Linked DNA regions of Homo sapiens. The protein of the gene in region 3 purifies or fractionates together with the protein of the main gene of each other region. This does not show direct contact. Each region holds a gene or a part of one and is shown on either strand. Other genes may lie near its edges. The genes, in order: ADNP2, BSN, SCAI, DOT1L, ZNF280D and REV3L.

What was found.
Region 1: the proteins of SCAI (region 3) and ADNP2 purify together in Homo sapiens (affinity purification with mass spectrometry, with the first as the bait; one large-scale study listed by BioGRID). This does not show direct contact.
Region 2: the proteins of SCAI (region 3) and BSN purify together in Homo sapiens (affinity purification with mass spectrometry, with the first as the bait; one study listed by BioGRID). This does not show direct contact.
Region 4: the proteins of SCAI (region 3) and DOT1L purify together in Homo sapiens (affinity purification with mass spectrometry, with the first as the bait; one study listed by BioGRID). This does not show direct contact.
Region 5: the proteins of SCAI (region 3) and ZNF280D purify together in Homo sapiens (affinity purification with mass spectrometry, with the first as the bait; one large-scale study listed by BioGRID). This does not show direct contact.
Region 6: the proteins of SCAI (region 3) and REV3L purify together in Homo sapiens (affinity purification with mass spectrometry, with the first as the bait; one study listed by BioGRID). This does not show direct contact.

Annotation. Positions count from the first base shown.
Region 1 is NC_000018.10:80,136,393-80,141,136, reverse strand, and holds the end of ADNP2 (activity-dependent neuroprotector homeobox protein 2), read right to left. Parts: coding exon 2,328-4,744; 3' UTR 791-2,327; downstream 1-790. UniProt on the Homo sapiens protein: May be involved in transcriptional regulation. May play a role in neuronal function; perhaps involved in protection of brain tissues from oxidative stress. May be involved in erythroid differentiation.
Region 2 is NC_000003.12:49,556,862-49,561,605, reverse strand, and holds part of BSN (protein bassoon), read right to left. Parts: intron 1-4,744. UniProt on the Homo sapiens protein: Scaffold protein of the presynaptic cytomatrix at the active zone (CAZ) which is the place in the synapse where neurotransmitter is released.
Region 3 is NC_000009.12:125,013,795-125,018,538, forward strand, and holds part of SCAI (protein SCAI), read right to left. Parts: intron 1-4,744. UniProt on the Homo sapiens protein: Tumor suppressor which functions to suppress MRTFA-induced SRF transcriptional activity. May function in the RHOA-DIAPH1 signal transduction pathway and regulate cell migration through transcriptional regulation of ITGB1.
Region 4 is NC_000019.10:2,166,091-2,170,834, reverse strand, and holds part of DOT1L (histone-lysine N-methyltransferase, H3 lysine-79 specific), read right to left. Parts: intron 1-4,744. UniProt on the Homo sapiens protein: Histone methyltransferase. Methylates 'Lys-79' of histone H3. Nucleosomes are preferred as substrate compared to free histones. Binds to DNA.
Region 5 is NC_000015.10:56,730,100-56,735,293, reverse strand, and holds the start of ZNF280D (zinc finger protein 280D), read left to right. Parts: upstream 1-1,784; 5' UTR 1,785-1,836; intron 1,837-5,194. UniProt on the Homo sapiens protein: May function as a transcription factor.
Region 6 is NC_000006.12:111,367,286-111,372,029, forward strand, and holds part of REV3L (DNA polymerase zeta catalytic subunit), read right to left. Parts: intron 744-4,744; coding exon 1-743. UniProt on the Homo sapiens protein: Catalytic subunit of the DNA polymerase zeta complex, an error-prone polymerase specialized in translesion DNA synthesis (TLS). Lacks an intrinsic 3'-5' exonuclease activity and thus has no proofreading function.

The DNA.
Region 1 (4,744 bases), on a different chromosome or scaffold from region 3:
AATAAGTTTAAACTTTGTTCACAACTATTAATCTGTTACTCATTTTTTCATTTTCAAATAATAAATTTCTTACATTTGCAAGAACTCCCACATGTGCTTTTTGAAGCTCAGCTTCTATCAAATCTTAATCTCTAATCCTAAAAAACTAGTAACCAGCAACTAGCATAACATTAAAGACAGCATGAACAGTTCTACCACAGCTAAACTGCACCAAGAAATCAGCTCTTTTACCAGGGTTCTGACAAGATTCTGCCCCTCAGGGACCACCTGGTAATGACATTTTTGGTGGCCACAATGGGGAGAGAGTAGGGACATGCGTGCTACTAGTGTCTAACGACACTGCTCAACATCCTACAGTGACAGAATAGCCACCCACCACAGAGAATTACCTGACCCAAAATGTCAGCAGTGCTGAGGCTGGGAAACCCTAACGTACACAACAAAAGGAAGGTGAGGATTCAACCACGCCAGACGGCAGCTGCCTCCTCATCAGCACCTCCTCCACACTCACCCTGAACACAGCCACAGTGAAGGAAACTTCACAGCACTGACACCCCAGTTACATACCTTCTTTGGCACTTTGGGGGCTACCAGTATAGAATCATCAGGAATCTGTAGTTACACCTATTTTGTGACCCCAGTAATTAGACCTTTTGGGTTATGTTCTTATTTTCACACAAATGACAGGTAAGGTTTTTTTAGAAAATAAATGTGGTATCTATTCCCATATAGAGGTTATCCCTATGATTCACAATAATGTTTTAACTTTTAAAAGAATTAAACAGTTCTATTTGCAGCGGTGTAACAAATTTTAATTCAAAATAGACACTCTGAAAACAATAGGTAAAAAAAAAAAATGTTCAACAAGCTCTCTTTGAATTTACAACAGAGTACACCAACAATCATAAACCAGTTTCACAACTGCCTCAAATATGAACATTATAGCAATTACATGCAAGTATTATATTTTTTAAAATCCACATAGTAACATTATGTTTCTCAGAGGCTGTCACATCCTCCAAATATTTCTACCTAAAGATAGAGTGAAGGGGTTCCTCTGCTGTGTACCACCAGAAATATGACTTACCATCTAAACTGGCTGGTCTCCATGACTGGTTCTGGTGCTTTAAGTTTTAATATCGTGTGGGGAAAAAAACGAGGTTTAACATCCACAGGACAGTGACGACAATGGAGATTCTTTAACAATATGCCATCCCATCGACCCGGACACAGCTTCCAGCCTAAACCAGCTAGAGAAAAGCCCGTTTCTCCACTAAACATGACCTTCAGAAAATGTGGTCAAAGACTTACTGTACCAACCATGGAGACTGAGATCTCAGTCTGTAAACTTCGCCATGTCCCCTGAAACCCTATGCTGAAATTTAAGTTAGTTTTCACACTCAGGGGCAATAATCTTATTCCTGAGTATCATAGACCTTCCCTTTCACTAGTTTATGAGTAGTTAAGTTAGGAGAAGAGTTTTGGGGTGTATTCTTTCAATGTTTATTCTAAAGGCACTAAAAATTTATTGTTTTACCTCTGAACGGAGAAATGACTTAGCATATCAAAAGGGAAAATCTACACTGAAAAATATTTCTGCATCTACAGAATAAATTTATTTGTAAAATAACTCTTGATGTATGAGCTACATACCAGCATACCAGATGTCAAATTCAGTCTACTTTTAACAAATAAAAACATTTGATTTTCTATGAGTTATGGTTAAAAAAAAAAACAGCTATTAGGATAAACCTAAAAAAATACAGATCTAAATTATAATCTATAAGCAAAGATCTTACAAAGAAGTCAGCGTAAGTTAATGCAGTGCATCCTCAGGGAGCCTTATACATACATCACAGGGTTTGTACCCACGTCTCTGAACACTCACTGTACCATCTGCTGCTACAGGGAAAGCTGAAGGAGATCGATGCTTCCACTCGCAGTTAAATCAAGTATTCTGAAAAAGGCTGAAATGTCCTTAATGAAAAAGCAAATTATTTATAGATTTCAGTTTCTTATCATACGATACTGACACTAGTGGGAAAACAAGGCGTGCATGAAATATCAAAAGATTTCATTTACATGACAGAGAAAAAAACCTGAAAACAACTGTTCTGTTACAAATCAAACTGCAGGAAACAATAGATGTGAAATAACTACTGGCTTCCTGGTAACAGGGGTCTCTCCAGCACCTGAAGTAACTCTGCAGAGCAGCACAGTGACCACTGAGGTTGATTCACCAACACAGTGAGGACAACACTGTGAAATTTCAACTGAAAAAAATCTACCTACTACTTTAGAGTTACTTTTTTTTTTTTTTGCAAGTTTTATGGTTCATATTCAAAGTTCAATCTATGTTTCACATTTTTAAGTTCAGACATATCAAAGCCTAAAAGTACAGAAGGCTTGTGATTTTTTATTGCTTTCATGCAAATATACCTTCTTTTTCCAAAAAATGAAGCCACATCAATTTTCCACACCCAAAAGAGTGAGGACAACAGTTCTATTTCCTTTTTACTAGGATATGGTTTCTTATGGAAATAATCTTTAAGAAATTGCTTCTTTTCTTCATAAGAACGGCCTTCATATTTTTTAGGATCTAATGCTAAAATCTGAAGAGCCTCGTCCTTGACAATAGGTCCCTCTGTTCTGCTTTCATTCCTTTGTCTTTTAAAAGGCACAACACTCGTCACCTTTTCTGGACCCGGGGCTGCATCGGCATTTAGGATGGGAGGCTGCTCCTCCCCATGCCGCTGGTCTTCGGCCCCTAAGTGGCCGTCAGGCAGCTTTCTCTTAACAGAAAAACTGGAATCATGCATCACTTCACCACTGACTAAAAGCAGTTCACTGTTGTGAATAAAACCCGGCTGGGCCTGCAGGTCTGAGCTGCTGTCCTTGGGAGCACTTCTGCAGCGCACCAAATGGACGGCGATGGCAGCCAGGGTCATATTTCCCGTGTAGACCCCACAGCAGTGGATGCACTTGAAGGCGGGAGACTTCAGGACCGTGTGGACTGTGGGCATGATGTGGTGCCTCTCCTTCAAATGCAGCTCATAGGCCTCAGTTGTCACAAAGGGGCCAAAGCAAAAGGGGCAGGTGGACACTCGCTTGCCGGTGCTCCCGGGGGTGCCCTCAGCCTGAGGCCTCACCTTCACATACACAGGCACCAGTGACTTGGAGTGTATCCCAGCCAGGATTGCCAAGTAGACTTCCCGCTCCCCAAGCTTCTCCTTTGGCAATATGGTGATGAAATCAAGGTGGGGAAAGAGCAGGTTGCCATTGGCATCGACATCTAATTGAAAACCTCTGTTGCTATAATCCATAGGCAACTTCTTCTTCCCCAGGTGCCTATTCCTGCTGTGCTCTGAAAGACCTTTGATATCATGGAAGGTGCATGGACAGAACAAGCACCCCAAGCCATGCATCAGCAAGTGGTGTATAAGCTCTTCCTCAGAGACCAAGCACTTACAAGACAGACATCGCACCGTTTTCTCTCTCATCCACTTTAGAAATGGTGCACACGCTGCCAGTTTTTCAGGCTCAAGTTTCTCACCAGACTTGGACTCGCTGTGCTTATGCGCTACCTCCATGTGGACCTGGTAGACGTTGGACGGAAAGAGCTCGTTGCAGACAGGGCAGGTCTTCCACTGCTTGGCCTGTTTGAGCACCTGGTTTGTGTCTGCTGCAGAGGAGGAGGCCTGAACAAACACGCTCTGAGCAGCATTCACCAGCACTGGAGGAGAGGGCATGCCGGGCATGGAACCGGCCATTGGTGCAGCTGCACCTGACGGCAGGAGCTGGATGGGCATCTGGGGCGGAGCGACAGTCGCAAGGCCTCCAGGGGGAACCGGCAGAGTGACAGACACGGGGGCCAGCGTGTAGGTTGGAATCCCATTCACTTGTTTCCCTGTAGGGATGAGCTGTCTGAGAATAGAGCCTGATGTCAGGAAGGTGGTGTTCTGCGAAGCACCAGGTCTCACTGGCTGATTCACAGGCAGAATGTTGGTGCCCACAGTCTGGTTGAGTTGCAAGACCCCAGGCCTCACTGGCTGGCCCACAGGAAGAACTCCCGACACAACAGGCTGACTAAGCTGCAGAACACCAGAATTCACACCCTGGTTTACAGGCACAACAGCTGAGGAGGAGACTGTCTGGTTGGGAGAAAGAAGCCCAGACGGGACCACCTGGCCTGCAGAGATAACCCTCAATGGGGCTGTCTGGCCTGGGGGAAGAACCCGTGACGGAGCTGTCTGGCCCACAGGGAGAACTCCTGACTGGACCATCTGGCCAGTAGGAAGAACCCCAGAAGTTGCTGTTTGCCCAGGGATAACCCCTGCAGGAGTCATCTGGCCTGCAGGAGTCATCTGGCCTGCAGGAAGGACTCCAGACGGGACCGCCCGACTCACAGAAAGCACCCCTGGCGAGACAGCCTGCAGGACCCCAGGGGTGACAGAGGGGCTCACAGGAAGAACACCAGGCCCAACAGGTCTGTTTATGGGTCCCACAGGCTGGGTGAGGGGTAAAACCCCAGGGCGAACAGTCTGATTTATGGGGAGGACACTAGTTCCAACAGACTTATTGACAGGTCCGACTGGCTGACTCAAGGGCAACACAGGAGGATTCACAGACTGATGAAGTGGAACCCCGTGAGAAAGAAAGACGGGCTGAGGTGCTGGGGGCTGCAGGGTGAGGCTGTTCTGGCCCACAGGCAGAGGGCTGGAGACCAGAGTCATGTGGGATTGGC
Region 2 (4,744 bases), on a different chromosome or scaffold from region 3:
GGTTGTATATAATAAATATATAGTGCATAATTTTTGTCAATTTAAATAATTAATTAAAAAAATTTTTTTAATGGGAGTGACCCTTGTTACCTGCCTGCAAACACAAATGTAACAGTGTAACTATTAGGAAATTTCCTCACCTACCCTTTCTCCCAAGAACCCAAATGCCTTAATGGTTCTTCCAGCATCTTTGGGAGGTTTGGCTCCCCACACAAGCCAGTGGCATTGAAGAGCTCGGGCTCCTCTGGATACAGGGGTTAGTCCCAGATAGGACTGGGTGGGGTGATCCTTGCTGCTGAGGCTCTTGGATCTCCTCAGTGTTTGGGACCAAGATCCAAAAGCCATCCCTTCTATTTCCCCTCAGGGAAAATCTCTTCTTCACCGTTGGCCCTGACAGCAGCCTCACCCACTTTAGGGGCAACCAGGCCTCTCCAGGCCATTCAAGATTTGATCTGATCCTGGGGTGATCTAGAGCTCCCTGGAGGCTTCCCATGTGCCTCCATGTGACCCTCTTGTTAGAAAGAAGTAGGGGCCCCAGGTCTCTGCTAGAGCAAAGCTCTCTTTAGAACCCTATGTGCCCGTAAAGACGAATAATAGGAAGGAGAGATCACAGCAGCCCTGTGGCCAGCCTGGGAGCCCAAGGCACAACACAGATGTGTCAGGGAGTATCCCATTCCACAGCAGAGCTGACCAGAACCTAAAATATAAGACAAATGGGCCAAGAGAATGCTAGGGGGCAACAGACCCCCACTAGAAGCCCGATCTGTACAGAAGGAACCACAGAGAGTGAGACACCAAAATTCTATCACCCCTACCACAGGCAGGAGCCCACAGGCCAGTGTCCCAATTCACTCCACAGCTTCAACCACTGTGCTAGTGAGAGGAGATGGCAGAGGTCCCTCCAGAAAAGGAGCTCGGGCAAGTGCTACAAATGCAGGATCAATACCAGCATGACATGCTCCTGGCACCAAATGAAAGGACTGAGCAGGAGTCCCCCACAGCTAGATTGTTCACCAAGTCCCAGCTTACCCAGAGGGCCTCATGTCCTAAAGTGACAGTCAGCCCTTGCTGTAGGCATGCAGGGCTTAGCCACCATTTTACCATTTAAAAAGTCAGTCCCCAGGCAGTAAGTAAAGTCAGGACAGGCAGGGCCTGCAGAAGCTGAATGGCCAAGCAGGTGGAATAAGAAATAAAACACCTAGCAGAATGTCTGTGATGAGGCAGTCATTCAGTAATGGTAGTCATAACTGCTATTACAGTGTTGCCAACCTACCTTCACAGTTAGCCCCAACTTACTGCACATGGCCCACAGGCTCCAGCAACAGGTTCCCCTCACATAGCCCACACATAGTAGGTCTGGCCTTCCACACCCCCACAACTAACAAGAGGAAAGGGCCCAATTCAGAAATGCAGGACCTGTGATAAGGGGAAAGATTTATTAAGCCCCCAAATGTGAGTAGGAGGCTTCCTACTCACATATGCAGGGAGGGCTCCCCCACACTGGGGTGAAAGGCATGACTTTTCTGGGGGAAAAAAAAAACAACTTTCCTCTGAAAGCTTTGACTTCTTAAACTCAGAACCAAACTGACTCAGAGGAAGGAGATCTTTAGAAAAGGAACAGAAAAGTGGTCCACTGCATTGTTCTTTGGCTCCCAATTAGCCCAAACCCTGGTTCTGCTTTCAGTGAACTCTCAGCCTCTCCATGTCTGAAGCCTTCAATAAACTCTTTTTTAAAAAGCTAGAATTTCTTGACCAAAAGAATAAAATTTGAATCTGATTAGCTTCTAGACAGAATTCTCAGTTTACAAGAAAAACATGGGACAGAGGAACATCTTAAATGACACCACAGGGATGCAATCAGCATAATCCTGAATATGAGAAACCACAGGACAAATGTCATAGTTCTCTAATAATAAACTGCAAGGAGCAAAAAGGAGAGAAAATACATAAAGAAACTAGACAGATGCATCAGACAAATTCAATGTGTAGACCCTGTTTAGATCACAATTCAAACCAATAATAAAAGTAAATTCATAAGACAATCAGAAAAGTAGAATCCTGACTGAATATTTGCTGAGTTTAAGAAGAGATCATTATCTTATTTAGATGTGGCTGTGGTGCTGTGGTTATGTTCATGCAAAGCCCTTATTTCTTGGAAATACAAACTGAAATACTGATGATGAAATTTTGGGATGTCTGGAATTTGCTTCTCTAGGGGGTAGGATGTGAGAGAGATAAATTAAACTCAATTGGCCATAAGTTGATGATGGCAGTGGCTAAGCAATGGGAACACAAAAGTTCATTAGACCATTTCCTCTACTTTCATGTATGTTTGAAATTTTCCATAGTAAAAAAAAAATGTTTAAGATAGCATTTCTCGGCCAGGCACAGTGGCTCATGCCTGTAATCCCAGCACTTTGGGAGGCTGAGGCGGGCAGATCACCTGAGCTCAGGAGTTTGAGACCAGCCTGGCCAACATGGTGAAACCCCGTCTCTACTAAAAATACAAAAATTAGCTGGGTCTGGTGGTGGGTGCCTGTAATACCAGCTACTCAGGAGGCTGAGGCAGGAGAATCGCTTGAACCCGGGAGGCAGAGGTTGCAGTGACCCGAGATCGCGCCACTGCACTCCAGCCTGGGCGACAGAGCAAGACTCTGTCTCAAAAAACAAAAAACAAACAAACAAAAGACAGTATTTCTCCTCCTAATGTCTCCATTACATTTTTACATTTTTTAAATCAACAGCACCTTATTAGTCTTAATGATGCTGTGAGCAACTGTATTATCAAAAGTAGCCTGCTTTCCCTGGAGAAATGCAAAAATGGTTGCCCTCTGGGTAAAATTTTGACATCGTCACCATTCAGATGTAAGGTCACTTTAATTCACACTCCATGACATACCCTCTGTGAGATCCAGCCACTGGGGACAAAGAAGATCTCTAAGTGACAAAGGAGCATTATTTCCAGACCTGGCAATTATGTCCTTTCATTTTATCTTTACAAGTTAGTGCCAGATTTTTCTAGAGGCTGAGTTGGCTGATATAATGTAACAAGTCTGACTAATCCCAGACCAGAGATACTATGCCTGACAAATCCATTTTGAAAAAGGAATTCGGGGTATGGTTCTCAGAGCAGCCTTGCCCACCTTCCAGTAAACAACCAGGTTCTCTGTGCCTAGCTGCCTTTGGCTTAGGGTGTCTGTCTCAATAACATATGGGCCAGGAGTGAAGAGAGGCGACTTTGGCATTGATTACGCATTCTGATGGGCAATGATGGAGAAGGGCCTCTGTTGGCTTTGCCCTGGCTTTCCCCCACCACCCTGCACTCAGCCTCATTCTCTGCTCACTGTCCCTGCCTGTGTAGACCACATTCTTTATGCCATTTATCTCTATCTCTACCTCTCTTAACCCAGTCATTTTTCCAGCCTTACATCTCTACCTCTCCTAAAGCTTAGCTGTGCCTCTCCACTCTTCCCAATTAACAACCCTGTAAGCACTGCTTATTTGACATTTCTCAGATACTGAGCTGCCCACAGTGTCTCTCTTAGGGTTCTTCCATGATTTGGCTCTTCAAGAGCTATCTGACCAACCAGTCTGTGAGGTGCTGAAGGACAGGGAAGCACTATATATCCTTTCCATACCATCCACAAAGCCAATAACTGTGCTTGCTCTTGACAGCTGACAAATACACCTTAGCTGATCGACTAGATATCAATTTGCAAACATCAAAACATGTGCAAGTTGGGCCGGGTGCAGTGGCTCCCGCCTGTAATCCCAGCACTTTGGGAGGCCGAGGCAGGTAGATCACAAGGTTAGGAGATCGAGACCACGGTGAAATCCCATCTCTACTAAAAGTACAAAAAATTAGCTGGGTGCGGTGGTGGGCGCCTGCAGTCCCAGCTACTCGGGAGGCTGAGGCAGGAGAATGGCGTGAACCCAGAAGGTGGAGCTTGCAGTGAGCGGAGATCGTGCCACTGCACTCCAGCCTGGGCGACAGAGCGAGACTCCAACTCAAAAAAAAAAAAAAAAAAAACTGACAGGTGCAAGTCCACAGAGCTGGTGTAAACTAGACAGGCTGCCACTGGTCTACATGGCTCCTTCGTGTAATTATTTTAAAAAGTACTTTCTGGGGTACTGATAAAGTTCTGTCTTGATCTGGTAGTGTGTCACGAGTGTATGTATAAATAAAATCCCATCAATATGTGTGTTCCACTGTACATTAGGCATATCTCCATAAATAAGTAAATGAATTAACGAGTGAATGATGCCCCTTCATCTAAGAGGATGCAGCCTACACCAGGGCACACAGCTTGGAGAGTGGAGCCTGGGTTAGAGTTCAGCTTTCTCCCAAACCAGCACTCCTTGGAAAAGGCACAGATTATATAATTGTACATGGCCACCCTGACACCAGAAGCAGAGAGCCCTTCCTTGAGGGACTCTCCAATGCCCAAAGCTCCACATCATCCCGACGGGCTAAGAGGCACCACTATGGGTGTGGCAGCACTGCTACTCATGGGATTCAAGTCAGGCTCTTCAGCAGCAAATGCTGGAGCCACCCCCTCACAGAGTCCAACTCAGCTCAGTATGAGGATGAAAAGACTAATTCAGCCTGGGATGACAAGGTAATATGGCAATAGCATTTAACTCCCCCAGAATCATCTCCCTTTTACCTGGCCTTCTACCCACCTCTATGAGGTTTCTGACTGCCCCGAAATTCAAAATCTTACTGAAAGCAAATATGTCTTTG
Region 3 (4,744 bases):
ACCGAATCCAGCAGCACATCAAAAAGCTTATCCACCATGATCAAGTGGGCTTCATCCCTGGGATGCAAGGCTGGTTCAATATATGCAAATCAATAAATGTAATCCAGCATATAAATAGAACCAAAGACAAAAACCACATGATTATCTCAATAGATGCAGAAAAGGCCTTTGACAAAATTCAACAACGCTTCATGCTAAAAACTCTCAATAAATTAGGTATTGATGGGACGTATCTCAAAATAATAAGAGCTATCTATGACAAACCCACAGCCAATATCATACTGAATGGGCAAAAACTGGAAGCATTCCCTTTGAAAACGGGCACAAGACAGGGATGCCCTCTCTCACCACTCCTATTCAACACAGTGTTGGAAGTTCTGGCCAGGGCAATTATGCAGGAGAAGGAAATAAAGGGTATTCAATTAGGAAAAGAGGAAGTCAAATTGTCCCTGTTTGCAGACGACATGATTGTATATCTAGAAAACCCCATTGTCTCAGCCCAAAATCTCCTTAAGCTGATAAGCAACTTCAGAAAAGTCTCAGGATACAAAAATCAATGTACAAAAATCACAAGCATTCTTATACACCAATAACAGAGAAACAGAGAGCCAAATCATGAGTGAACTCCCATTCACAATTGCTTCAAAGAGAATAAAATACCTAAGAATCCAACTTACAAGGGATGTGAAGGACCTCTTCAAGGAGAACTACAAACCACTGCTCAATGAAATAAAAGAGGATACAAACAAATGAAAGAACATTCCATGCTCATGGGTAGGAAGAATCAATAACATGAAAATGGCCATACTGCCCAAGGTAATTTATAGATTCAATGCCATCCCCATCAAGCTACCAATGACTTTCTTCACAGAATTGGAAAAAACTATTTTAAAGTTCATATGGAACCAAAAAAGAGCCCGCATCGCCAAGTCAATCCTAAGCCAAAACAACAAAGCTGGAGGCATCACGCTACCTGACTTCAAACTATACTACAAGGCTACAGTAACCAAAACAGCATGGTACTGGTACCAAAACAGAGACATAGATCAATGGAACAGAACAGAGCCCTCAGAAATAACGCCACGTATCTACAACTATCTGATCTTTGACAAACCTGAGACAAACAAGCAATGGGGAAAGGATTCCCTATTTAATAAATGGTGCTGGGAAAACTGGCTAGCCATATGTAGAAAGCTGAAACTGGATCCCTTCCTTACACCTTATACAAAAATTAATTCAAGATGGATTAAAGACTTAAATGTTAGATCTAAAACCATAAAAACCCTAGAAGAAAACCTAGGCATTACCATTCAGTACGTAGGCATGGGCAAGGACTTCATGTCTAAAACACCAAAAGCAATGGGAACAAAAGACAAAATTGACAAATGGGATCTAATTAAACTAAAGAGCTTCTGCACAGCAAAAGAAACTACCATCAGAATGAACAGGCAACCTACAAGATGGGAGAAAATGTTCGCAACCTACTCATCTGACAAAGGGCTAATATCCAGAATCTACAATGAACTCAAACAAATTTACAAGAAAAAAACAAACAACCCCATCAAAAAGCGGGTGAAGGACATGAACAGACACTTCTCAAAAGAAGACATTTATGCAGCCAAAAAACACATGAAAAAATGCTCACCATCACTAGCCATCAGAGAAATGCAAATCAAAACCACAATGAGATACCATCTCACACCAGTTAGAATGGCAATCATTAAAAAGTCAGGAAACAGGTGCTGGAGAGGATGTGGAGAAATAGGAACACTTTTACACTATTGGTGGGACTGTAAACTAGTTCAACCATTGTGGAAGTCAGTGTGGCGATTCCTCAGGGATCTAGAACTAGAAATACCATTTGACCCAGCCATCCCATTACTGGGTATATACCCAATGGACTATAAATCATGCTGCTATAAAGACACATGCACACGTATGTCTACTGCAGCACTATTCACAATAGCAAAGACTTGGAATCAACCCAAATATCCAACAATGATAGACTGGATTAAGAAAATGTGGCACATATACACCATGGAATACTATGCGGCCATAAAAAAGGATGAGTTCATGTCCTTTGTAGGGACATGGATGAAATTGGAAATCATCATTCTCAGTAAACTATCGCAAGAACAAAAAACCAAACACCGCATCTTCTCACTCATAGGTGGGAACTGAACAATGAGAACACATGGACACAGGAAGGGGAACATCACACTTTGGGGACTGTTGTGGGGCGGGGGGAGGGGGGAGGGATAGCTTTAGGAGATATACCGAATGCTAAAAGACGAGTTAATGGGTGCAGCACACCAGCATGGCACATGTATACATATGTAACTAACCTGAACATTGTGCACATGTACCCTAAAACTTAAAGTATAATAAAATAAAATAAAATAAAATAAAATAAAATAATAAATACAAAAAAAAAATACAAAAAATTAACCGGGCGTGGTGGCACACACCTGTAGTCCCATCTACTAGGAAGGCTGAGGCAGGAGAATCGCTTGAACCTGGGAGGCAGAAGTTGCAGTGAGCTGAGATTGCACCACTGCACTCCAGCCTAGGAGACAGAGCAAGACTCTGTCTCAATAAATAAATAAATAAATAAATAAATAAATAAATAAATGTCAGTTATCTAAGCAAATTAAATTCAAAATAGGAAGAAGGAAATAAGAATCAGAATCAATGTAAGAGAAAAAATTAGAAAAAATCAGTATTTCATTTACTACAATATATCGAGGCCTATTAAAATGCCATAATAATGAAGTCAGAAGTATCAGCATAATAGACAAACAGACCAAAGGAACAGAATGAGACTCAAATATATTTGAACATCAGATTTATGATAAAAGTGACACTGCAGTGTGGCAGGGAAAAGATGGTCTTTTTAGTAAATGGTGCTAGGTCTACTGGAAATCCAGAAAGAAAATCTGACCCATACTTCACACTAAAATAAATCCCAAAGATATCATAGATCTAAATATGAAAGGTAAGGTAAGCAATGATTTCTCAAAATAGGACACAAAAAAGCTAATACCAGAAAGGAAAAAAATTATAAATTAGACTACATTAAAATTAAGGACTTCTGTTCACTGGAATCTCAGTATCTGGAACAGGGGCGTCTGGCATAGCGTAGATACTAATAAATATTTTAACAGATGTTTAAAGAAAAGGAGAAAAAGAGACAGAAGATATCAGAAGAGAGTAAAAGGCAAGACAAGAGTAGGAGAAGATAGTTCAACACATAAATCTGACAAAGGACTTTCATGTAGAATATATTCAGAACTCTTACAGATCAATAAGAAAATACTGGAAATGCTTGGTCATAGAGTGTGCACATATGGAGCTGTACTAGATAATGCCTGACACTTTTCTAAAGTAAATCTATCAATTTCTATTTCTACATAGTATGAAATATTCAGTTCTTGTACTAGTTGCCAGGATATGCTATTATCAGTTTCTTGGTCTCTTTTGTTTTTAGTCATCTAGTTCGGTGATATCTCATTTGGTTTTAATTTATATTTTTCTGATTAGAAAAATTTTCTTTGAATTAAAAAAAAGTGAGAAAAATACCGAGCCTTAAGATAGTATAACTATACAAACCATAAATGTTTCAAAATATTTCCATTTAGTATATTCATACTATAATTTCAAAAACGTTGTAGACATTTGCAAAATAATGGTCATAAAAGCCAAAAATGGAGAAATACCAGAAAAATTTAACAATAACAAAAGTGATTGATAGATGCTAGGATAGGATCCAAAATTAAACTTGTATAAAAAACACATCTAGAAAAATGTATTCACTGGTGTAATTTCCAGTAAATTTCATTTCTAGTACATTAAATCTCATCATCATGGTGCTACTCTGTCATGAAAAAACATTTGAAATTCACTTTTGACAAATTTACCCAAAAACAACTCCTGGCCAAGTGCGGTGGCTCACACCTGTAATCCCAACACTTTGGGAGGCTGAGGCAGGAGGATCACTTGAGGTCAGGAGTTCAAGACCAGCCTGGCCAACATGATGATGCCATCTCTACTAAATATACAAAAATTAGCCGGGTGTGGTGGTATGTGCCTGTAATCCCAGCTACTTGGGAGGCTGAGAGGCAGGAGAATCGCTTGAACCTGGGAGATGGAGGTTGCAGTGAGCCAAAATCATGACACTGCACTCCCACCTGAGTGACAAAGCAAGACTCTGTCTCAAAAAAAAACAAAACACAAAAAACACCAACTCCTCGCCCCTTTTTGCTTGATTGGAAAGTAGGACATATACATTTTGGAAACTTTATTATTATTATTAATTTTTGAGACAGAGTCTCGCTCTGTCACCCAGGCTGGAGTACAGTGGTGTGATCTTGGCTCACTCCAACCTCCGCCTCCCAGGTTCAAGTGATTCTCTTGCCTCAGCCTCCTGAGTAGCTGGGATTACAGGAGCATGCCACCATGGCTGGCTAATTTTTGCATTCTGTAGTAGAGATGGGGCTTCGTCATGTTGGCCAGGCTGGTCTTGAACTCCTGACCTCAAGTGATCTAACCACCTGGGCTTCCCAAAGTGCTGAGATTCCAGGTGTGAGCCACTGTGCCAGGTCAGAAATTTTGGAAACTTTAGAATGTTGTAAAAAATAAAATAAAAATCCCCTATAATTTGGTTATTTGGAGATAAAACTTAGATAGTTGTAACATTTCTTCCTCGTCTTTTTCCTGTGTGCATACATATAGACATTCTAACATA
Region 4 (4,744 bases), on a different chromosome or scaffold from region 3:
TGCCTTGCCCTGAGGATCCATTTCTCAGTATTCATGGGCATCCCACAGATCGTCCTTTATCATTAACCAAAGGACCTAAGTGTTTCTCGGGAGTTCTGTGAGCCACTGAGGCAATGTAATCAAGCCGAGGTAAGGGTGACGGGAACCTGGATTTACAGCCGACCGGTCACTCAGAAGCACAGGTCACAACGTGAGGCCTCTAACTGGCATGGAAAGTGGGGGAGTCTTGGGGACTGAGCCCTTACCCCGTGGGATCTGAGCCTGTGTCGAGGTAGACATGCTGGAAGTGAGTTGAATCGGGGCTGCCCAGTAGGAAACACAGAACTGATGAATCCCCGGGTACCCGTATCTGGTTCCGCAACTCCTCTGTGTTGACTGCGGAGAGCACAGGAGGAACCGTGTTGGGTCCTTCCTACACCTCACACTGCTGGAAGATAAAAACAGCTCCAAGCAGTCCGTGCCCAGTGAGGCATGCAAAATGCATCAGGTCCAGAGAGACAAGAGCAAGGATTTCAGTCACGCCTCCCAACCACACCAGGGGCAAGCGTGGAAAGGCATCTATCTGTTCCTGCATCCTGGTCTCGGACACTATCTTCCTGTTCCTGGAATCTGTAACACCAAGAGTGATTTGCAGCCATCAATGGCCAATATTACTTGAACAAAAATTCTTTTTTCCTTTATCTAATTTTGTCTGTTTGTTTGAGACAGAGTCTCACTCTGTCGACCAGTCTGGAGTGTAATGGCATGATCTCAGCTCACTGCAGCCTCCCCCTCTCGGGTTCAAGCAATTCTCCGGATTATAGGCAACCGCCACCACGCCCAGCTAATTTTTGTATTTTTGGTAAATACGGGGTTTCGTCATGTTGGCCAAGCTGGTCTCGAACTCCTGACCGCAGGTGATCTGCCCGCCTTGGCCTCCCAAAGTGCCGGGATTACAGGCATGAGCCACCGTGCCTGGGCAACCGTGTGTTTTTTTTAATTAAACTTTTTATTTTAAGATAATTGTAGATTCACACTGTCGAGCTAAAGGAAAGGAACTGGAGCAAAATTAATATAAGTGGAGCATTTATTTGGGCCACATTTGAGGACTGCAACCTGGGAGCACAGGCTCGAATTACCCCAAATATACACTCTGATGAGCAGCAGATAACAAGCAGATTTTTAAAGGAAAAAAAGAGCTGGGCGTGGTGGCTCACACCTGTAATCCCAGCTACTCGGGAGGCTGAGGCAGGAGAATCACTTGAACCCAGGAGGCGGAGGCTGCAGTGAGCCGAGATTGGGCCACTGCACTCCAGCCTGGGAGACAGAGCGAGTCCGTCTCAAAAAAAACTCTCCTCAGAGGCTAGGCTGGAGTGTCCCTGTATCATCTGCAGAGTTTCTGGACAATTCCCCGCCCCAGTACCCCCTGCAACCTCTTTCAGGCCAGCAGGAACAAAGCAGTGTGCATTTGCTATAAAACGGAACACTTGGGTTTTTTCTATTATTCCTTCCTATTTAAAGCGACTCCTTTACTCACACAAAGCTGCCTAAAGGTTAATCTGCCTCCGGGGGAGCTGGGATTACTCAGGACACTCAAGCTCAGAGGTCAGCAGCAGAAAATACCTTCTGAGTCACGGTGGGGACAGCTCACCCCGCCCCGGCTGCTACTCACTGCTGGCTGCCCACTCACCGCCGCCCACAGCCGGGCTCCAGGCCAGGCTGTCAGGCGGAACATGTACTCACTCATTAATGAGAGTCAGAGAGTCCGGACCCTTGGCCAGTGGAGGCCGCCCCTGCCCGCCCACAGCCTGTGAGTCACCAGGGGGAAGGTCCCGTTCTGTGGCCTTTGAAGGTTCTTTCCGAGCAAACAACCAATAATGCCACTTGTGCCCTTCCCACTAGAAGAAGGGCAGGGCCATCCTGCCCTAGAAATACCACGCAGGGCCAGGCACGGTGGCTCATGCCTGTAATCCTAGCACTCTGGGAGGCCCAGGCAGGTAGATGACAAGGTCAGGAGTTCGAGACCAGCCTGGCCAACATAGTGAAAACCTGTCGCTACTAAAAATACAAAAAATTAGCTGGGCGTGGTGGCGGGTGCCTGTAGTCCCACCTACTGGGGAGGCTGAGACAGGAGAATCACTTGAACCCAGGAGGCAGATGTTGCAGTGAACCGAGATCACACCGTTGTACTCCAGCCCAGGCAACAGTACGAGATTCCCTCTCAAAAAAATAAGAAATGCCATGCGGGGCTTGAGAAAAGCGGTTATCCAGGAACTCCCAGGTCATGTAAGAATAAAAATCTCCCTTCCTCCCCCTTGCGTTTGCCAATTGGGCAAACCCCTTCCGAACTGCTCATTTCCGAGCGTGGACAGTTGTGGCTATTTCTGCTTCCTCCTCCGGATGGCCCCTCCTCCAAGCAGCCACCCACAGGTCCCCCAGGGCAGAAGTGGCAGCCCCTCCCTGGGGACCTCAGCTGACCTTGTACTCAGCACAGTATCTCTGCTGAACTTCTATTTATAATCTACTTAACTTCACTGTTTTAAATTTTTTGGTAGAGATGGAGTCTCCCTATGTTGCCCTGGCTTGTCTCAAACTCCTGGGCTCAAGCAATCCTCCCGCCTGGGCTTCCCAAAGTGCAGGGACTACAGGCATGAGCCCCTGTGCCCGGCCTGTCTTCATTTGACAGGTTTCTTGAGACTAAGAATGCTGGGGCGGTGGCGGGGGGAGAATATTGGCTTGTTGTCCTCTGTGCCCCCACAACACTGAGTATTCAGTAGCTGCTGTTGGAATGAATCATGAATAAATGTGCTGCTGCAGCTGCGTCTGGGCACGGTGGTTCACGCCTGTCATCCCAGCACTCTGGGAGGCCGAGGTGGACGGATCACCTGAGGTCAGGAGTTTGAGACCAGCCTGGCCAATATGGTGAAACCCTGTCTCTACTAAAAATACAAAATAAGCCAGGCATGGTGGCACAGGTCTGTAATCCCAGCTACTGGGGAGGCTGAGGCAGGAGAATCACTGAAACCTGGGAGGCGGAGCTTGCAGTGAGTGGAGATTGTGCCACTGCACTCCAGCCTGGGCGATAGAGCAAGACTCTGTCTCAAAAAAAAAAAAAAAAAAAGAAAAGAAAAGAAAATCAGAACCACCCCTCACTTCTTGTGAGAAAGCAAAATTCCTCAACGGGAACACAGAAAATGACAAATGTCACGGCGAGGTTGTCAGAAGGCTGCCTCTGGCACTTGGGCGAATGAAGATGCTGGGCCCGGCAGTGGGCCAACCAGAGCAGGAAGAGGCCGTAGACGGCGCCAGGACCAGCACACCCTGCCAAGCCAGGGCCTGGCCAGGGAGGGAAAGACACGGCACAGTCCCGCCCACCACTAGAAAGCCCGCTCCCGCCAGCTCTCGCCCTTACTATTTACAATGGAGCACTGGCCAGGCAGGGCAGCAGGCATGCGGGCGGGGACACCAGGGCTGCCTTCACGTGAATGTTCACTTCAGTACCAAGGAAAAGGCAAAGGGTCCCTGGCAAGACCACTACCCCAGGCCCCGACGCTGGGTTCCAGTGGGTTTCTTAGCACTGACAAGTGGCAACTGTTGGGATGCAGATGTTAAACAGACGCTTAGCACAGGCCGTGCGGTCCACCCCTGAGAACCTCGCCACGCGAACACTGACTTTCACCAAAAATCCCGCCAGTGGTGTTTAGTGCGGGTTTATTCTAATCACCAAAAATTGGAAACAGCCCACAGTCCTGTGACCCACAGGCAAACACGTCAACAATCTGTGGCCCAACTGTCCAATGGATTTACAGTCAGCAAAAAAATGGGGTAACTTTTGAAACCTGCAGCAACACGGATTTGGCCGCCTGAAAGCCACCAGGACCAAAGGGCAACATGCTGTTGATTCCATTCAGCCAACTTTCTGAGAATGGCAGAACTACAGGTAAGGCCAGGTGGGGAGCAGCCAGGAGCTCCCAGGCAAGCTGAGGATGGGGGCGCCGCAGGGAAGCTGGGGGTTCTGCACCTGGACGGCAGCACTGGTCAGGGCACCACCCAATGAGTTTGTCAAAACGTATAGAACTGTACCCTGCAACCAGCGAACTACGCCCTAGGTGAACTGAAAGAGGAAGATATACGAATAAATGTGAGGCCAGGTGCGGTGGCTCACCCCTGTAATCCCGGCACTTTGGGAAGCCAAGGCAGGCGGATCACCTGAGGTTAGGAGTTCGAGACCAGCCTAGCCAACATGAAGAAACCTGGTATCTACTAAAAATACAAAATTAGCCGGACGTGGTGGCTCATGCCAGTAATCCCAGCTACTCAGGAGGCTGAGGCAGGAGAATCGCTTGAACCCGGGAGGCAGACGATGCAGTGAGCAGAGATGGCACCACTGCACTCCAGTCTGGGCAACAAAAGCAACACTTCCTCTCAAAAAATAAATAAATATAAATAAATAAATGTGAGGCCAGGCGAGGTGGCTCGTGCCTGTAATCCCAGCACTTTGGGAGGCCGAGGCAGGCGGATCACCAGAGGTCAGGAGTTCAAGAGCAGCCTGATGAACATGGAGAAACCCCGTCTCTACTAAAAATACAAAATTAGCAGGGTGTGGTGGCGCATGCCTGTAATCCCACCTACCAGGGAGGCCGAGGCAGGAGAATCGCTTGAACCCGGGAGGCTGAGGTTTCAGTGAGCCGAGATCGCACCATTGCACTCCAGCCTGGGCAACAAGAGCGAAACTCCGACTCCAAAAATAACAACATAACATAAC
Region 5 (5,194 bases), on a different chromosome or scaffold from region 3:
ATGGGAACACCTATTCTGTTTTACTGAATGAAGTGGTGCCTGAATCTAGAATTGCAATAAAGCCAACCGAGATCTTTAAATTTGTTGTAATTTCACCTGACACTGTAGCATGCTTTGCTAACCTTTAGGGACATTTGAAAAACGATGTCTTAAGAATGTTCCAAGATTTTGGAATTTTTAAACTTTCCATGTTTGCTGTTTTGACTATTTTCTGTCTTTTCCTGTAAGGTTTATTTTTCAGGGCCAGCAGAAAAGGGAAAGCTGGGTAGATGATCCCAGGCCCATGTGGGAGAAGGATAGGTCATGGTTACCTCCAAGTACACCAGATCTGTAGGAGTGATCCAGGTGGTCTTTGGGGAAGATTAATTTGGGGGCAGTAATCAATATGGAGACTACAGTAATGATAAACACTTGAGAAAAACTGGGGAAAGCCAGATGAGAGAGAAGAAACTGAATTCGAATAGGAAGATGAATTAGCAAGATTCAGTGATTGAACAGGGTGTCTGTTATGGATCCTAACAGGCAAGATTTCAAGTCTTGGTCACTCACAAGCTGCACCAGTAATGCCATTGCTCTTGAGAAGACAATCAGTTTAGGAAACTTTCCTTACAGATCAGAATACAACCTTTAGCAAGTATTTACGCAAGCAGTATCTTGGCAAGTGTTCTTCTTGTAAATTTCTTATACTTCTCGTTGTCAAACTTTAAAAAATGCTATTACAGGTTAATATGCAGATGGCAGAGTTAGGAATTAGAGTGTGCAAGTTAATCATTCTAATTGGGTCACTCTTGTCATAGCCAACTAAAAGAATGGAGAAGCCAGTGCTGGGGGAAGCCCTCAGGGCACATAACATTGCTCTAAGAATGGAATTCTCAGCAAGCCTGGCTGCTGAAACCGCCTGCTGTAACCTGAAACAGGTTTTATCTTCAGGTTTTAGCTTCTCAAAGAACCTGCTGCAGCTGTAGGGCAAGCTTTACCAAGCCCCTTCCCTCACCAGTCAGAACTAACCAGCTACCCAAAACTTTACTAAATGTCAACGAACTTTCTAGAAAAACAATAGATAACTTTTTTTAAAAAATAAAACCCCCTAACTCCTCTTTGTTCTTCTGACATACTGAAGACCACCCTGTATGTGTAAATAACCTGAACTTGCAATTCCTGTGTCCCAAATAAAACGCTAAATGTACAGATTCGTCTCTTCGTATTTGACCTCGACAGGGAACGCAAGCAAAACCACACATTTAAAACAGACTTGGTAAAATCAGCTCGTTATTTAAAGAAACGGACGATTCCTTTTTCTCTCCTGGTTTAGTCTTCGACCCACAGGCCCCTTGCTTCTTTCGAACGGCGGCTGTATCCCATGACCTTTTCACTTTCCAAGCCAACGGACTGGGGGTCGTTACACACGCGGAGGGCCCGGAACGCACGGCTCCTCGCCTGCAAATTCCGAGCAGTCCGGATTTTGGGGCTGCCTCCCGGCCACACCAGCCAGCAGCTCGCACCCACATGGAGGCAGGGCCCTGGCCCTCGCCCCGGACCGGCGCGTGGCGGGGCGCGTGGGTCTTCGAGGGCCCGCGACGCGGCGCACATGCCGGTGCCCGCCTCCCGCGTCGGCGAGAAGACAGGGAGCTCGGACACGGGGAGGCTGACCCGGAGCCTACCCATGAGGCAGCGCGCCGGCTGCACGAGAGCCCCCCCCTTTCCACGGCTCGGCTGCCAGCTCCGCAATGGGAGCCGCCGCCGTCGCCGCAGTGTAGTTTTTCGTGCTCCTCCTTTTCCTCCTCCTCTTTCTCCTCCTCCTCAGGGCTCCAGTCAGGCCGATCCGCTCCGCTCACGGTAAGCGCCCCCCCGCCCCCGCCCGCCCTGCGCTGCAGCAGGCAGAGGCCCTCCCGCGCGGCCTGCGCCGCCTCACTCCGGGGGCGCTGGACTGGGGGTCTTGAGGCCGGCGCGGGTCGTCGGGAGCGCCCAGAGCGCGGGGGAGGAGACCGGCTGCGCGGCGGCGGCCGGACCGCCATCTTGCGTCGGCCCAGGCGGGGGAGGAGGTATCCCGGCGCGACGCGGCAGCCGCCTCGGCTGCTGCAGGCCTGGGCCGCGCAGGCCTTCGCCTTCTGCTCCTCCGCCACCTCCTCTCCCAGGCGTGTGCGCCTGTTTGTCCCCAGCCTGGTTTTGGCTTTTCTCTCTGGAGGCAACTCCCTTTGGTACATTTTGTGCCGATGTTTGGCCAAGACCCATGGTCCTCACACCACAGCCCACCCCCGTGTCTCTTCAGTCGTAGGAAAGGAGACCAAAGGGGATTCGGGATTTGCAGGCACAGGGCCCCTCATTTTGCCCAGATGACCGGTCGTTCCACGTTTGCACCCTCATTTTTGTCAAAGAGACCTCCCCTCCTCTGCCATAGAATTCCCGTTATTGTCTACAGAAGAAGGGCCCTGAGGAGAAACGTGGAGTTGGAGACAAAATTTTCTGAGCTTTGCAAGGTTCACTTACTGAGACGGAAAGAATGATCTCACTCTGAGGTTTTAGCCTGCTCCAGCGATGGAAGGAATTCCTCCCAACTTATCGCAAGTTTTAACGCTTTTAAGGAGAAATCTGCTGGAGAGGAAAAACGTCAAGGTGAACCCGCTTCTGCAAGCACGGGAGACCTTTGGCCAAAGGCCTTTGTTTGCGAAGATTTGTTAAAAAAAAAAAAATCTGTCATCTTAAATATTTGGCTTTATTTTCAGGTTTGGACAGAATTTGTCTTTTTTAGTGCCATGAAACATAAAATGGAACGCTAGAAGGACAGTTTTAAAGCACAAAAGCTGCCTCTTAGCATCTGTAAGGTGTCCTGCTTTGGGGGACTGCTGTGCCAACTCCAGCTGTCTCCACGCAGAAACTTAACCAGGGAAGGCACTGGTTTGCTTATACCATTGTTAGGGCTGTGTGCCTCTGATGTTTTAACATCACTACAAATACTGTTGTAATTGTGTCTTGCTTTTGTGCCTTTCATTGATAACCCCTGATTTGTATCTCTTAGCCCCTTTTGAAGTGGTCTGGGTTGCTGGAATCATTTTGCAGGCGAGGAAACAGAGCCTCAGGGAGAGGACTTTAATGAGGTCACTGACTAGGAAGAGCCAAGGCCAATTATATTAATAGAACCTTAGGTCTTCTGACTCCTTCTCCGGTGCTCAACTCTAGTATATACCATTTTTGTGGGAATGAGGTAGATGAGAATAGGCAAGGAGGCTCACTTAAAGATTTTAAGAAACATTACTCAGTTGCCCTTTCGTTGATATTTTTATACTTTACTTTTGAAATGCGGTTGTTATGTTGCCCAGGCTGGTCTCAGACTCCTGGGCTCAAGCTGACCTCTCACCTCAGCCTCCGTAGCTGGGATTACAGGTGTGCACCATCTAGCCTGGCTTTTATATTTTTATTCTCGAGTTAATTTCTTAACTTTGCAACTTGCTATTTTTTTCGAAAATATTGGAAAGTTAAATAGCCCATTTGAACACTTAGTTTTAACGCTACCTTTTTGCCATATTTGCATTTTTCCACTTATCTCACATTCTGTTTTCTGAACGTTTCAAAGTGCATTACGGATATGACAGTTCAGCCCTAAATGCTGTATGTGTGTCAGTATGTATTTTGTAAGAGATCAAGGCCATTTTTCTGTGTAACAATACCGCAATCACACTTAAGAAAGTGAAGAATATTCCTTAAAATCTAACGTGGTGTAGTATATATTCACATTTCCCCCCATTTCTTCAAAATTCCTTTTCAGTCTTTTTTTTTTTTTTTTTTTTTTGAGATAGGTACTTGCTCTGTGTCCCAGGATGGAGCGCTGTGGAGCAGTCTTGGCTCGCTGCATCCTTGACCTCCTTCCTGGGCTCAAGCCATCCTCCCACCTCGGCCTCCTGAGTAGCTGGGAACCCAGGAGCACGCCACCACACTCAGCTAATTTTTGTATTTTTTGTAGAGATGGGGTTTTGCCGTGTTACCTAGGCTGGTGTCAAACTCCTGGGTTCAAGTGATCCACCTGCCTCGGCCTCCCAAAGTGCTGGGATTACAGATGTGAGCCACAGCACTGGGCGAAATTGACCTTTTGAAGAGACCTGGTCTGTAGTCTTTCAGAATAACCCATATTCCATGTTTTAGTGATAGTTCCTCCTGATAGTGTTTAAATTTGTTCCCCCTATCCTCTCTGTTTTCTCTAAACTTGGATTTGGGTCTAAAGGCTTGAATATATTTAGGTTTAATATTTTTTTGACAGGAATACTTCATAAGCCATGCAGTATGCTTCATTGCATACAACATCCAAAGGCACATAAAGTAGGCTTGTCTTATTAATAATCCTAAATTTGATCTCTTAGATAAGGTGGTGACAAGCTATCTTTCCATTGTAAGCATTTCCTTCTGCAATTAGCAAGTCATTTGTGGTGTGATATTTTGGCATTAGTAGTTGGTAGGAATTTACCTGCAGTAATCTGATAAACACAGTTGGGAGCAGTCGTTTAGGTATGGCTTTGGAAGTTAGGAAGAAGAAGAAGTGGAGACAATTCTGGAGGAAATACTAACCCATCTACTTTAGGGAACTTGGAATGCTTCTATGTGTTGGCATCAGAGCCTAGGGAGACTAGGAGAGAGGAGGCAGAAAGTAGATGTCAGAAAGCTTTGCCTTCTTTGAAAGTTTGCTTAGGACCATTTTAGCCATAGTAAGCTATGGTAAATAGAAAAGTTCTGAAGTAGTTTGATGTTGGAGGATTGCAAGTGCTTCAACTGGAACATCTGTCCAGTTAGGCTACTAATCCAGTCCTTTTTCATTCCAGTGTTCTATTAATCAGCATTGGCTCACTGAAATAGCAGTTTTCACAAATGAAAAGTCAACTGTAGTTTTAGGTGACAGGAAATTGGATATTTCTATTGACAACATACTTTGTTATTCCAAAAGCAAGTTTTGGAAGATGAGGAATACTTACGACATATTCACTAATTAAATATATAAATCCTGAATAGTTTTTTTCTTGCTTTAGAAAGGAATTAAAAACTTTGAATTTTCAGATTGCTTTAAATAGTGATTTAAATAATGACTTGATTTAATCAGTGCCTTATATCAAAAATTGTATGTTTAGAATTTTGATTTATTTCTCCAGAGCAATTTTAAGGATTCTCTTAACCCTCAGTATACGAGGAAAAGTGTACAATTATCACTATC
Region 6 (4,744 bases), on a different chromosome or scaffold from region 3:
TACCATCTTTTATTGGCTTTAAGAAGTTCTCAAAAGCCAATGAAGGCAGCTCCTCTACTGGTGATGAGGGTCTATCATCTCCATTTAATGCTTTGGAATCTGGGGATATTGGTTGTTGCCAAGGGGGAATTACTGGAGAATCAGGGGAGCTATAACTAATGTAATAGTTATCATCATCATCTTCATCTTTTTCGGGATCACTTGCAGAGGCAACTGGTGGCAGCATCTGACTTTCACTTGCAGTTTGACTACATCCCGTGGTTGGTGCTTGTAAAGCAATCTGAGAATTATCAACATCCTCCTTGGTATGTGCTGTAGTGGGGAGTATACATGGACTTACATCCATTTTTGGAGGCACTACAGGTTTGTCATCTGGGTTAACTGAAGAGCTAAAGTTCTCAGCAGATTTTACAACTCCAGTTGGCTTGGTTTTAGGCAGTTTCTTGGAACGTTCGTATTCTTCTTTGGCTTGAAGCCACACTTGAACCAGTTGTCGACTTGGGGCACATTTGCAAGGCATAATCACAATTTTTTTATCTTCAACCATCTTAGGGCTATTACTTGACCCTTTATTGACAACTCCTTGGCCACTGCGAAGGGGTGACCCTGGCCTTGGATTCTGAGTCATTGCTGAGAATGCTGTTTTCCAAAGACGAAGTCCTTCCAAGGAAAAGTCTCCCTCAAACTCAGCCAGATCATTTGCAAGTCGAGTTTCTACCATGAGGAGCCGTCCACCAATCTCCCTATAATAACATATTTTAGAACAACTGTTTTGTTTCAAAGAGCAATTACCAAAATATTTAACTCCATATCCTAGATAAAGTCCCTTTTGGAGTCTCAAAAATGTCCATGTCTATCTTCCCTGCCCCCTCTATATTGTGCAGGTACATTCTATCTTTAGTCTCAATATGCTTTTCCTCACAGGTATATGACTACTACTTAATTTCCTTTGGAAGGTACCATTAATCTTAGGGAGAGAAGGTATTTTTTGTTTTATTTTAATGCCCCATGAAGCCTTCTGTCCTTCAAGGAGATGACACAAACTTTTCAGATTCCTTTCCTCTCCTAATCTTAAAATAAATTTTCCATTATTACCACATATGAATAAAAACAATGAATTTATCATTCAAATACTATGTCCCTGGATATTATTCATAGCTTCTTCCTATATTCTCCAGTATCTGTAGTTTAACAAAGCCAGTCAATTCAAATGAATCTTCGTACTCTCAAATTCCCTTAAACATTAAAAAAAATACCAACTGAGGTAAATTACTCTAATTCTTTCTTCCCATTCCATGGCAGGGATTAACACTGACATAACTTAGGAGCTGGCAGAGCCCACAGGATGCATGGCTTAAATGTTACCAATGCATGAATATGTGGGAAATCACTAATGAAAACAGTCTGGTTTCATTTCCAATAGTTATAAATATTAAGTGAAACCTCTGTCTTTCTCCAATCCCTTGATACTATTTCTGCTTACTACAGCAACATAAAATAATTCTACTTCTTCATGTTAACTTTATTATGGATATAAAGTTAATTCATAGTTTTTTCAATCACTTCTCTTAGGGCATGATTCCCCAAATGTCCCCATCACTCTCTATGTAAAATCCACTAACTGGATCATGTTTTCAGATTTGAAGCTGAAAGAAGAGCATTAGGGCTACTCTGTCTCCTTTATATGAAAAGACTTAAGCCCCTACTAGTTAACTCCATAACCAGCATCCAGCACTGTCCCTGCATCCACTCTTGGCAATGTGAAAAAACAGAAACAGAATTAATGCTGTTGAAGGAAATGAATACACATACCAAGTGACCATACCCAACTCTAATACTAAGGATAGAGAAGTCATAATGAGGTCAAGAATAAAAAATGGTGAGGTGTCGGGAGGCTGAGGCAGGAGAATGGCGTGAACCAGGGAGGCGGACCTTGCAGTGAGCCGAAATCACGCCACTGCACTCCAACCTGGGTGACAGAGCCAGACTCTGTCTCAAAAAAAAAAAAAAAAAAAAAAAATGGTGAGGTGTGGTGAATTCAGTTTTCTTACATATTGTCAGCAGCATGGTAATTGCTATAACCCACTGGGAAAAAAAATCTCCTAATATGTATCAAGAGCCTTAAATTTTTCAGTAATCCTACTTCTAGGGCTATAAGGAAAAACTCCAAAATACAAGAAATGCTTTAAGAAGAAAATGCTAATATCTTCTTAACATACATAATAATATACATAATATCTATAGTGGCAAAATTGCAAACAACCTTTCTGTCCAATAATATATACATGATGCAACATATGCAGCGATTAAAATATTCAAGAAACTCATTTGGAAAATGTTTACAATATAATGTTAAGTGAAAAATTTGGATATAATACTGTGACTATAGTAAGATCACACTTCACAAAACAAAACAAACTAAAAACTATACTTTTTAAAAAAGAAAACAGAATACACATCAAAATATTATGGTGGCTGTTACTACATGGAAAAATGATGTAATTTTTATTTTTTCTTCTTTCATACTTCCTAAATTTTCTATATTGAATATACAGTTTCATTTTTTTTTTTTGAGACAGTCTTGCTGTGTCACCAGGCTGGAGTGCAGTGGTGCGATCTCAGCTCACTGCAACCTCTGACTCCCTGGTTCAAGTGATTCTCCTGCCTCAGCCTCCCGAGTAGGATTACAGACTCATGCCACCATGCCCAGCTAATTTTTGTATTTTTAGTAGAGATGGGGTTTCACCATGTTGGCCAGGATGGTCTCGATCTCCTGACCTTGTGATCTGCCCACCTTGGCCTCCCAAAGTGCTGGGATTACAGGCGTGAGCCACCGTGCCCGGCCTACAGTTTCATATTTCAAAAATATTTTTCAAAAATGATTATTTTTTATTTTAGCTGCAGGACAAGTGTCAAAGTTGGACAATAACAACAACACAAAGGTAATGACTAGCACATAAAGTTTGGTAACTAAAAGTAAATATACCATAATCACTACTAATAACACCAAAGTCCCCAAAATGATGGAAACTAACGTCTAAAGAACAGATTTCATATGCTCCAGCAGTGAAATAAAGAGTTCCATGTGGGTACTAAACAAAACTGTGTGTTGAAAAGGGGCTGGGAGGTGGACATTTCTACCTTTCACTTCAAGTCATTACAGGAGAGAACTTTTATTCTGCATTTCTGATAACCTTTTCTCACCCCTTTATTAAAAAAATAAATTTTATTGTGTATATTTAAGGTATAAAATATGATATTAGTATATAGTAAAATGGTTCTTACAGTGAAACAAATTAACATATCCATCATTTCACATTCTCAACCCTTTCTTAAATGGATTCCTATAGGAATTATTGTGAATCTGCTGGGTAAAAGCCTGGCATTCACTGTCGTGTTTTTTTAATTTAAACTTTTTTAAAAAGATATTTTAACAGCTTTAGGTTGACAGCAAAATTGAAAGGAAGGTACAGAAGTTTCCCATATATCCCTTGTGCCCCCACACATACATGGCCTCCCTCATTATCACCATCCCCTACCAGAGTGGTACATGTGTTACAATCGATGAACCTATGTTGACACATCATAATTGTCCAAAGTCCACAGATTACATTTGGGTTTGTTCTTGGTGTGGTACTTTCTATGGCTTTGAACAAATGTGTAATATTCATATTGTATCTTTCTTTTTTTTTTTTCCCACTGGAGTCAGGAACATGGTACTGCCACAGGTCAGTGCATACATGCAGTGTGTCCTCTGCTGCTTTTCCTATCTCTTTCCAAGATTTAGACTAAGGCAGGGCCTGCCTTAGCAGTTCCAGCCATCCTCTTCTGCTTCTGAATGGATGGCTGAAATGAACTGCCTGCTCTGCAACTGGTTAAGTATATGAGATCATGGACACAAGGGCAGGAACAAGAGCCATCATTTAAACTTTCTGGATTAAGCCACATTACCCAATTTAGCTTTCATCAGTTATGTCCTAACTTGGTGATGAAAGTGGTATACACCATAACTACTTAACTACTGATAAATAAACCAGTACTCTGATTTCTATTTTGCTATTTGCTGTGTGTGTGCGTGCGCTCACATGTTTGTCTATCAATTCCCTGAAGAGATTTTTTTTTTGAGATAAAGTCTCATTCTATTGCCCAAGCTGGAATGCAGCGGCGTGAACACAGCTCACTGCAGCCTTGACATCCTGGGCTCAAGTGATTCTCCTTCCTTAGCCTCCTGAGTAGCTGGGACCACAGGTGCATGCCACCATGCCCAGCTATCTTTTTTTTTTTTTTTTTCTGAGATGGAGTTTCACTCTTTATTGCCCAGGCAACAAAGTGCAGTGGCGTGATCTCAGCTCACTACAACCTCCACCTCCTGGGTTCAAGTGATTCTCCTGTCTCAGCCTCCTAGGCAGCTGGGATTACAGGCACCTGCCACCATGTCCAGCTAATTTTTGTATTTTTAGTAGAGACAGGGTTTCACCATGTTGGCCAGGCTGGTCTTGAACTCCTGACCTCAGGTGATCTGCCCCCCTCGGCCTCCCAAAGTGCTGGGATTACAGGCGTGAGCCACTGTGCCCGGCCTAATTTTTTGTAGAGAGAGAGTCTCACTATTTTGCCTGGGCTGGTCGCAAACTCCTGGGCTCAAGCGATCCTCCCACCTCGGCCTCCCAAAGTGCTGGGATTACAGGTGCACACCACCATACCCAGCCACCTGAAAAAATTCTTAAAAGAAAGGAGAATGGAAACC